Linked DNA regions of Homo sapiens: region 1 is linked to region 2. Evidence: fine-mapped expression QTL. A gene starts in region 2. The other region holds a variant in brackets. All regions are shown on one strand. Distances are between the middles of the regions.

What was found. PIP is the estimated chance that this variant, and not a neighbour inherited with it, causes the effect. A credible set is the group of variants that fine-mapping cannot tell apart.
Region 1: its variant is the best candidate, but not a certain one, in a credible set for the expression of PSEN2 in visceral fat (GTEx, PIP 0.73).

Annotation. Positions count from the first base shown.
Region 1 is chr1:226,895,503-226,900,876 of GRCh38, forward strand. It overlaps PSEN2 (presenilin 2), which reads left to right. Exons shown (of 13, transcript NM_000447.3): 13 at 1-596. The coding sequence ends at 77. Among named protein-coding and RNA genes, the nearest start is that of PSEN2, 28 kb to the left of the region's middle. RefSeq lists a silencer at 392-623. The variant A/G (reference allele first, on the strand shown) is at 2,535.
Region 2 is chr1:226,867,529-226,872,907 of GRCh38, forward strand. It overlaps PSEN2 (presenilin 2), which reads left to right and starts at 3,088. Exons shown (of 13, transcript NM_000447.3): 1 at 3,088-3,121; 2 at 3,734-3,876. LOC105373119 (a long non-coding RNA gene) reads right to left here and starts at 3,022. Exons shown (of 3, transcript XR_949226.4): 1 at 2,834-3,022. RefSeq lists silencers at 2,891-3,490, 3,501-3,550.

The DNA.
Region 1 (5,374 bases), 28 kb after region 2:
TCATCTTTTACTTCTCCACGGACAACCTGGTGCGGCCGTTCATGGACACCCTGGCCTCCCATCAGCTCTACATCTGAGGGACATGGTGTGCCACAGGCTGCAAGCTGCAGGGAATTTTCATTGGATGCAGTTGTATAGTTTTACACTCTAGTGCCATATATTTTTAAGACTTTTCTTTCCTTAAAAAATAAAGTACGTGTTTACTTGGTGAGGAGGAGGCAGAACCAGCTCTTTGGTGCCAGCTGTTTCATCACCAGACTTTGGCTCCCGCTTTGGGGAGCGCCTCGCTTCACGGACAGGAAGCACAGCAGGTTTATCCAGATGAACTGAGAAGGTCAGATTAGGGCGGGGAGAAGAGCATCCGGCATGAGGGCTGAGATGCGCAAAGAGTGTGCTCGGGAGTGGCCCCTGGCACCTGGGTGCTCTGGCTGGAGAGGAAAAGCCAGTTCCCTACGAGGAGTGTTCCCAATGCTTTGTCCATGATGTCCTTGTTATTTTATTGCCTTTAGAAACTGAGTCCTGTTCTTGTTACGGCAGTCACACTGCTGGGAAGTGGCTTAATAGTAATATCAATAAATAGATGAGTCCTGTTAGAATCTTGGAGTTTGGTCCGTTGTAAATGTTGACCCCTCTCCCTGCATCTTGGGCACCCCTGGGATAACTTGTGCTGTGAGCCCAGGATGGAGGCAGTTTGCCCTGTTTGAAGGAACTTTTAATGATCTCGCCTCTCTGCACACATTTCTTTAACTAGAAAGTTTCCTAAGCAAAGGAGTTAGGAGAGCAGGGTGGCCTGACATCTGCCAGCCCTGAGCTGTAAGGCTGTGGATGCTGAGCAGGTCCCTGGACTCAGTTGTGCACGGTGGCACAGACACTGCCAGGTGGTTGCCAAAACATCCAGTGGTTCCTTCAGCAAGTGTTCACCCTCTGCAGAAGCCTGTGAGGGCCTGAGCTCAGAAACCACTCTCCTTTCCTTCTCTGGCTTTGGCCCTGGGCACTGTGGTGGGAGAGTGGACAGTTTGGCTTTGCCTTCTCTGTACATCAATCATGGGTTGCAAAGAGAATCTCAGAAGTGCCTCTTCCTGAGCACAGTGGCTCACACCTGTAATCCCAATACTTCGGGAGGTCGAGTCGGAAGGATCACTTGAGCCCAGGAGTTTGAGACCAGCCGGGGCAACATAGTGAGACTTTGTACAAAAAAAAATTTAAAAATTAGCCAAGCATGGTGGCATGCATCTGTAGTCTCAGCTACTCTGGAGGCTGAGGTGGGAGGATCACTTAAGCCCAGGAGGCTGAGGCTGCAATGAGCCGAGATCAAGCAGGTGTTAGGTATATCAGACAGCTGAGAAGACGCAAGTGTGCCCTGGGGTTCAAACTGGTACCCCTGTCTCCCTGTTCCAGGAATAACATGAGTGCCGGGACAATGCATCTTTATTATGAGAGGAATGAGAATTGTGTATCTTGACATTTGACAGGAGCTTGCTTTCCCCCAGGCTGTTTGAGGAAGGGCAGAGGAAAATGTGGTGCCCTAAGAAGGAAGGACAGAGGAGGCCGAACACTGGCGGGTGGAATCCCACTGATTAGTAGTGCAGGTCAGAGACCTGGGATGGGGGGCATTGCCGTCATGGAAGCCACAGCGGGGAGCGGGTAAAGCAGACAGGGATGGTCCCTGATGGTGACAACTCGCAAGAGGTTAAGGGGAAAGAAAAACTGAAAAGCTTATTCAATTTGGCAATTATGGCAGTGTTTATCTTCAGAAGAGCAGTTTTAGGGTGGGGTTTCCAAAGATGGGATTGGACATATATTTTGAATCATTAAGCTTGAGGTCTTTCAAAGGCCTGGCCAAGGGTTGCTGGGTGGAGACCACATTCAGAGGTAAAGGCAGAAATTGGGGGCCCTTAAGTAGACAGCGAGGGAGGAAGAAATGAAGGGGCCTGGTGATGGTTAGGGTGAAGTGTTAAGACTGAGAAAACAAGGACATGTGAGAAGACGAGGGAAGAGCATTGGAGAGAACAAAGACACTGGAGGAGATGCTACTTGGAGGTCCCCAGAGAGCAGGGAGACAAATGAACCCAGAACACAAATGGCAAAGAAGAAAAATGAGAGAATTTGTAAAAGACAGCATTCGAACATGCCGAACAAGAGCAGGGTACTGGTGTTCAAACACCTGTATCTCCCCCGTGTAACCCGTCAACTAATATCTTTCCATATTTGCTCCAGATTTGTCTTTAGAAATAAAACCCACGTTCTGAAGTCCTGTTTGTATGTGGCCCCAGTCCTGTTGCCTCCGCCTCCTGTCCTGAAGTCGATTTCTGCCCTTCTCATCTATGGTTAGTTTTGTTTTGTATGTTGGCATGTTTTCTTAACTTTACAGAAATGGTATCATACTGTACATATTTGATAATTTTTTAAAATATTGCATTCTGGAGGCATGTATAAATGTAGCTCCAGTTCATTTATTTTATTTATTTTTTGAGATGGAGTTTTGCTCTTGTCACCCAGGCTAGAGTGCAATGGCGTGATGTTGGCTCACTGCA[A/G]CCTCTGCCTCCTGGGTTCAAGCAATTCTCCTGTCTCAATTTCCTGAGTAGCTGGGATTACAGTTGCCCGCCACCATGCCTGGCTAATTTTGTATTTTAGTAGAGACGGGGTTTCACCACGTTAGCCAGGCTGGTCTCAAACTCCTGACTGCAGGTGATCCACGCACCTTGGCCTCCAAAAGTGCTGGGATTACAGGCGTGAGCCACCGTGCCCAGCCCAGTTATTTTAACTATTGTATAGTGTTCCATTGTATGAGTTCTACTGTTTATATGCTATTGATCGACCTGTAGGGGTTTTGCAGTGTTTCTGTATTACAGCTGTGCTGCAGTGAGCATCCCATCACATTGTGTGGATTTGAGGAAGTATTGGAATTCCCCCAATTGACTGGACATTCCCAATTACCCTCCAAGTATGTGTCTGTTTATCCTTCCATCCGCAATCTGAGAGTTCCCCAACTCTATAATACTTGGTGTCATCAGACTTTTCATCTTGTCTGATTGGATGGGTGTCATTTCCTTTAGGTTTTATAATTATCTTTTCATATGTGTATTGGCTGTACAAGGTTCCTTCTCTGTTCATTATTATTAATTTTTTTAGACAGAGTCTCGCGCTGTCGCCCAGGCTGGAGTGCAGCAGCGTGATCTTGGCTCACTGCAAGCTCCGCCTCCCGGGTTCATGCCATTCTCCTGCCTCAGCCTCCTGAGTAGCTGGGATTACAGGTGCCTGCCATCACGCCCGGCTAGTTTTTTTGTATTTTGAGTAGAGATGGGGTTTCACCGTGTTAGCCAGGAGGGTCTCGATCTCCTGACCTCGTGATCCACCCGCCTCGGCCTCCCAAAGTGCTGGGATTACAGGTGTGAGTCACTGCGCCCAGCCCAAGTTTCCTTCTCTGTTACTTGTTCATATCCTCTGCCCATTTTTCACTTGGATTTTTTGTCTTACGGATATTTAAGCCTCTTAAAATATATATTCTGGAGAGATGCTAATCTTTGATTAATTATATGCATTGCAAATGTCTGGTACATTGTGGCTTGCCTCTCTTCCCTGCCTTTAGGAGTGTTTTGCTGGACCCAAGTAATTTTTAAATGTTAATGTTATTAAATCTATCAGTTTTTTGCTTGTATGGCTTATGCCATTGAATCTTGTTTTAAGAGATCCTTCCCTACCCTCAAGGTTTTCTAAATTTTTATTTTCATAATAAGATTTTTAGTTCATCTGAAATGTATTTTTATGATTGTATTTAGTAGGGACCTAATTTTGTTTTTCTTTGTAACCAGGTGTCCCAGCACTGTTTACTGAACAGTCTCTCCTTTCTCGCTGGTCTGTAGAACTCTCCTGACATATACCAAGTTTCCATAAGTGGGTGGATGGGTTCCTGAGCTCTCTACTGTTAATAGAACTTGCTCTCTCGCAGGCCAATGCCTCACCAGGTGATTGAAGCAGAGAAACTTAGGTGGTGAAAGGAGAAGATGGGGCCTGTCCTGAGAGTTTCTGTTCCTGAGATGCTAGAGGCAGAGGGTATGTAAATCTGAAGTTACACTGGATCTCCTAAAACAGTATAAAGCTACAGAAGTATAATAGTGTGGAATGGTGGTGGGAGTCAGTAAGGGTTAGGTCACTGCAGTGGTTTAAACAAGATGGGCTAGAATCCTTTCACAGGCACAGGCAGCTTGGAGAGGGTGCAATAGTGCATGGTATCAGGGGTCAGATGCCTCTTTTTCCTTTGAGATCAGTAAGTGGCTTTCACCTCATGACCTAGGCTGGCTGCTGTGTGCTAGCCGTCAAGTCACACTCCATCCAGCATGAAAGGAGGTTAGAAAAGGGTGCATTTCCTCTTCTTAAAAACATGTCTCAAAGTTGCACACAGCACTTTTGCCTATATTCAATTGGCCATTAGTCCCACGGCCATACCTGTCTGAGACTGAGAGACTGGGAAATGTCTTTATTTCAAGTGGCCATATATCCACCTAAACAAGATAAGGGATACGTGGTTATGGCGTGTCTTTTGGTTTACCAATGCAGATAATGAAGTTACCAAAACAATGAGAAAATGGGGTCGTGAGGGATCATGTGAATCACAAGCTGATGTCTTCAAAGACGGTGGAAATGGGCCCCGGGAGGCAGCAGATGACAGCAGTGGGGATTAAGGTAGACCTCCATCCTGGGGTTAAAATGAGGGGAAGGTGATGGAGCTGGACCAGCAGTCAGAATGGTCAGTGGTTAGGAGACCCTCTGCCCCCCACCGCTGCCACCATTGGCTCTCTACAGAATGCCTGCGAGTGGCTTAGAGTGACCAAGGATGAGGTGCAGATCCATGTGCACCCCCCTGCCCCCTCTGTGGACAATTTTCATGCCTGACAGCACAGTCTATGTGGATTGCAAGCCGATGAAACTATGCAAAGTAGAAGCATGCCTGCAGTTTGTGATTCGGTGATGTGTTTTATGCTTATGTGAGTCGAATGGGGCGGCAGGGTCCTGTGGTCACCCGCTGAGAAGGAAGGGTCCTGTAACCACTGCCTTTCTTTCAGCTACTTGAGAAAGGTGTTGTGAGGGACCGTGGATTTTGGGACAGCTTTGAATGGTGGTAGGGAGGAAGGGTCCGGTCTGAGTGAATGGCCAGAAAGCTGTGGGGAAGCTTTTAGGACATTGGCCAAGAGCTCCCTGAAGGCAGCCAGGGAGATACTTGTCAGTACATGTGACTAATGGCCAACTGAATATAAGCAGAAGTGCTGTGTTGCTGTGTGCAACACTGGACACCTTAGGAAGGACCTCGAGACAGTGGTTGTGGACTCTGTAGAGAGTAACAGTGACAGTAGCAAACCCTTACCCAGTGCCAACC
Region 2 (5,379 bases):
TCTGTTTGTTTAGATCATGCCTTAGTCTTTCTGGCCACCAGCCCCTATCCTGAAGCTAGTCAGGGGTCCCCAGCCACCAGTCATTTCATTAGCATACCAACAACATTCATCACACCTGAGATTCCAAAGGTTTTAGAAGCTTGTGCCAGGAACGGGGATAAAGACCAAATATTTATTTTTATTATATCACAACTTCCTAACTCATTTATTGAGTCATTATGCTTCACCTTAGGGCATATGCAGCCTCTTCACATTAGGGGAAATTCAGCCTATCAAGTGCAACACTGAAAGCTAAATAACAACAACACAACAACAACCAATCAGGGATGGGCGCGGTGGCTCATGCCTGTAATCTAATCCCAGCACTTCAGGAGACCGAAGCGGGAGGGTCACTTCAGGTCAGGAATTCGAGACCACCCTGGTCAACATGGCAAAAACCCCCTCTCTACTAAAATTACAAAAATTAGCTGGGCAGGGTGGCACATACCTGTAATTCCAGCTAACTTGGGAGGCTGAGGCAAGAGAATCACTTGAACTTGGGAGGCAGAGGTTGCAGTGATCTGAGATCGTGCCACTGCACTCCAGCCTGGGCGAAAAAGCAAGACCCTGTTTCAAAACAACAACAACAACAAACCAGGTTGGGGAGTTATTTCCCAGGAATTCTGTAGCAAGGGCTCATATGCATCAGTTAGAGTTGGACTTTGTGACCTTCAGGTGTCCTTCCTTTTCCAAGAATCGATTATTTTTATAATTCTGTTAAATGTAATTAATTTCTCAAATTTATCAAAGATCATTATTTGGACCATTATTTTCTTAGCCAAAATGCTGGCCTGCCCCAGTTCCATCCAGGGTTAATCTGCATTTAAACAGCTCTTTGAAAATATTTGGTTTTCCCCATCCATCTATGGCCAATTGATTTTTGACAAGAAGCCAAGACAATTCAATAGGAAAAGGACAATCTCTTCAACGAATGGTGCTGGGACAACTAGAAGTCCACATGCAAAACAATGAACTTGGACCCTAACCTCACACTACATACAAAAATTATCTTAAAATGGATCAACAACCTAAATATAGGAGCTAAAACTATAAAACTCTTAGAAGAAAACACAGGAGTAAATCTTCACAACCTTGGATTTGACAATGATATCTCACACAGGACACCAAATGCACAAACAACAAAAGAAAAAACAGTTAAGCTGAAGTTCATCAAAATTAAAGTTTTATGTGCATGAAAGGACATCAGAAAGTGAAAAAGACAATTACAGAATGGGAGAGAAATATTTGCAAAGCATATATCTGATAAGGGTCTAGTGTCCAGAATATATAAAGAACTCTTACAACCCAACAACAAAAAGACAACCCAATTTTAAAATGGGCAAAGGACTTGAATAGGCATGTCTCCAAAGAAGATATACAGATGGCCAACAAACACATGAAAAGGAGAATGCTTAATAGCATTAGTTATTAGGAAAATGTAAACCAAAACCAGAATGAGGTACCGCTGCACACCTACTAGGATAACAATAAAATGGAAAATAACAAGTGTTGGTGAGGATGTGGAGAAATTGGGATCCTGTACATTGCTGGTAGGAATATAAAATGGTTCAGCCATCGTGGAAACCACTTGGGGTTCCCCAAATAGTTAAACACTGAAGGCTGGGCACGGTGGCTCATGCCTATAATCCAGCACTGTGGGAGGCCAAGGCAGGCAGATAACTTGAGTTCAGGATCAAGACCAGCCTGGCCAACATGGGGAAACCCCATCTCTACTAAAAATACAAAAATTAGCCAGATGTGGTGGCACACACCTGTAACTCCAGCTACTCAGGAGGCCGAGGCAAGATAATTGCTCGAACCTGGGAGGCAGAGGTTGCAGTGAGCCAAGATTGCGGCCACTGCACTCTAGGCTGGGCAACAGAGCAAGGCTCTGTCTCAAAAAAAAAAAAAAATTGAATTACCATGCGATCCAACAATTCAACCCCTATGTATGTACCCTCCCCAAATAAAAATGGGCTCTCAAACAAATACATGTACATGCATGTTCATGGTAGCATTATTCACAAAGCCAAAAGATGCAAACAGCCCCAATGTCCATAGATGAATAAACTGTGGCATACATGATACACACACACACACGCACACACATATACATATACACACACAAACACTATTCAGTCATAAAAAGGAATAAAGTCTGTTACATGCTACCTGAGGATGAACCTCGAAAACATGCTAAGTGAAAGACACAAAAGTCCACACACTGTGATTCCGTTTATATGAAGTATCTAAAGTAAGTAAATATAGAGACAGAAGTAGACTGGTAATTGCCAGGGGCTGGGGGGGAAGAGGGCATTGGGAAGAAACTTCTCAATGGGTATGGGGTTTTTCTTTCGGAATGAGGAAAATGTTTTGGAACTAGACAGAGGTGGTGGTTGCACAGCATTGTGAATTCACTAAATGCCACTGAAATGCCCACTTTAAAATGGTAAATTTTATGTTATGTGAATTTCACCTTAAGTTAAAAAAAAAAAAGTAAAACTACTCAGACAACGCCAAATTATTGACAATCTCAACCTACCCCACAGACCCCAAATCCTGGAACCACAACCCCCTAGGCCAATTCTCAGGTCAGGCAGCAATTTATTCCTGTTCAATTTTATGCAGAGCTCCTGGTGGCTCTGAAGCGCCCTAGGGAACAGACCAGGAACATTCTCATGGTGTTAGCTCACATTGGGCCATTAGTGCTCCTTTAATGTGAGAACAACCGGGAGGAGGAGGGGATGTGGACCCAAAACTACAAGAAAGAGTGTCCTCGAAGCCTATGTCCTACCGCCCCACGCTGCTGCCAGGCCCGCAGGAAGATGACAGGCCCGGCCTCCACTCCTTCTAAGGTCGTCGCTTAGTTCCGACGTCGGGATGACCCTGTCATCCACGCGGCGTGAAGGCCACCCTCCCCGCGCGCCCGGGACTCCAGGTGGGGCCCCAGTGGACGAGGGAACGCGGCGTCGCCCACCGGGCGTGGCCTGGGCGGGCGTGGGGCGGGGCCTGGGCCGGCGCCGGGTCCGGCCGGGCGCTCAGCCAGCTGCGTAAACTCCGCTGGAGCGCGGCGGCAGAGCAGGTGAGCGGGCGGTGCCGGGGGGTGCCCAGGCCAGGGCCCTGTCGCCTGCGGCGCTGAGGGCCCGGGGTGGGGCTGCGCCCTGAGGGCCCTGCCCTGCCCTCCGCACGCCTCTGGCCACGGTCCCTTCCCCGGCTGTGGGTCTGCGGCCCCTGCGTGCGCAGCGCTCCTGGCCTCTGCGGCCAGCGCGGGGGCGGAGAGAGGAGAGTGCCCGGCAGGCGGCGGCTGGGCCGGCCCGGAACTGGGTCGTGGAAGGATCGCGGGGAGCGGCCCTCAGGCCTTCGGCCTCACTGCGTCCCCACTTCCCTGCGCCCGCCTGCCGCCGAGCCCCGGCTGGGGGTGGGCGCGGCGCGAGCGGTTAAAGGGCCGGTGCATTTAAAGGAGCGGTGCACGTGGGTCTCTGAGGCGTGTAGCAGGCGGGGGCGTTTTGTTCTTCTTCTCTCTCGCCGGAGACCTCCGTTGCGCCGAGTCCATTCGGCCTCTAGCACCGGGTCCTGGGCATGCTTTCCCCGGGAAGGAGGCGCGCGGGGGCTCTGCCCGCACGTGAGGGGCAGGGCCGCAGGCTCAAGCCTAGAGCCGGTTTCTGTTAGCAGCGGTGTTTGGCTGTTTTATCAGGCATTTCCAGCAGTGAGGAGACAGCCAGAAGCAAGCTTTTGGAGCTGAAGGAACCTGAGACAGAAGCTAGTCCCCCCTCTGAATTTTACTGATGAAGAAACTGAGGCCACAGAGCTAAAGTGACTTTTCCCAAGGTCGCCCAGGTACGATATAGCAGAGCCAGGCTTCGACCCCAGTGTCCTGGCTTCTAGATCTGCTGTCCATCCCTCCGAGCAGACCTCACCCCTGTTTATTGCCTTAATAAGTATTCCCTTTGAAAGGTATGAACGGTGTTGAGTGAAGTAACTGCATCCCTATTTACAAATGGAGAACCTGAGAGCATTCCATAGAGACGATTGTAGACTAACTTAACTCAGAAGCGACAGCCTGGGGTTGCCAAGGCTGTCTACGAAGTAACTTGATTAGGACCGACCCCAGCTTCCAGTAAGGAAGCCTCTGATGCCTCTGTAGCCAATTCTGCAGACACCTGAGCCTCCAAGGCCTTCAGCCAAGACCTTTGGCGGTAATTGGAGTCTCGGGATAAGCTGCTTCAGGTGTGTGAGCCTCAGGTTCTTCTCTCCTGAATGTGGTTGTGGGCAGCCGGTGACTGGCGCAGGTGCAGAAGGGGCCTGGTTCTTGGCCCCACCTCAGAGCTGCGTCCTCACGACGCCCACGTTGAGCCTTGGGTTCCAGGGCAGAGACTGGAGTGAGGGCTTGGGGGCATGTTGCTTTGAAGTGGGATGGATGTATCAGGTTTTTGGGGAAAACTCTGTACCCTTTGGTGTTGAAGTGCCCATGTGCCAAGTCTTGAGTCCAGCATGTTCACATGTGGGGAGTGAGTGGCTTGTTCCTGTCTATTTGAAAGAGCAGCAAGGAGGAGGAGGAGCAAGGGCTAGGGGCTGCTGCTGGGGTGCCTGGAGCTGTGGTGCATAATGTCACACCTGTCTCCCCTCCGTAGCTGCTCACCGTCCCCCCAAGGGGGGTTTGCCTCTTGCCTACTTTGGCCTTTCTCTGTTATCGATGTTAATAATGACATATATCTCGCTTATGAGTTGGTCATAATAAAAAGCTATCTTGTACAGAATATTAGAATTTAAGATCTTAAGAATTTCAATGACACTGAAATAGTTTATTATTACCTTTTTACAGAAGAGGAAACAAGTTCAGGGAGTTAAGCAGCTAGTCCAGTTATGTGGCTTCAGTGCTTTAAGCACCAGGATTTGAACATAGCTGGCTACACTGTCTTTATCTCTTGAGTTTTTGCGCAGGAGGTTCCTGTATTCAACTCCTACCCGTGTCTCTCCACTACTGCTGGGAAAGTTTTGTGGAGTCCCCATGAGCAACTTCCTGACAAACAAACAAAATTTTTTTAAAGAAACCAAAGCAGTGTGTGTAGGTCACATGCAGTGTGTCTAATGAAAACATCTCTGGCGGGTTTTCAGCTGTTGCTTTGACTTTCGGACACTGTTTAGTTGGGGACTGATAAGACAGCAAATATTTCTGCAAGTATTCCCACCTGTTCTATTCCCAGCTGCCACAGCTGCGGAAAGGCGGGGGTGAGGCTGAGAGGCCCCGAGAGGAACATTTTCCACTGGGCTCCAATCCTGGAGATGGGATGACCATCATGTTAATGTCTGGAGAAAAGAATGATTTCAGGCTGGGTGCTG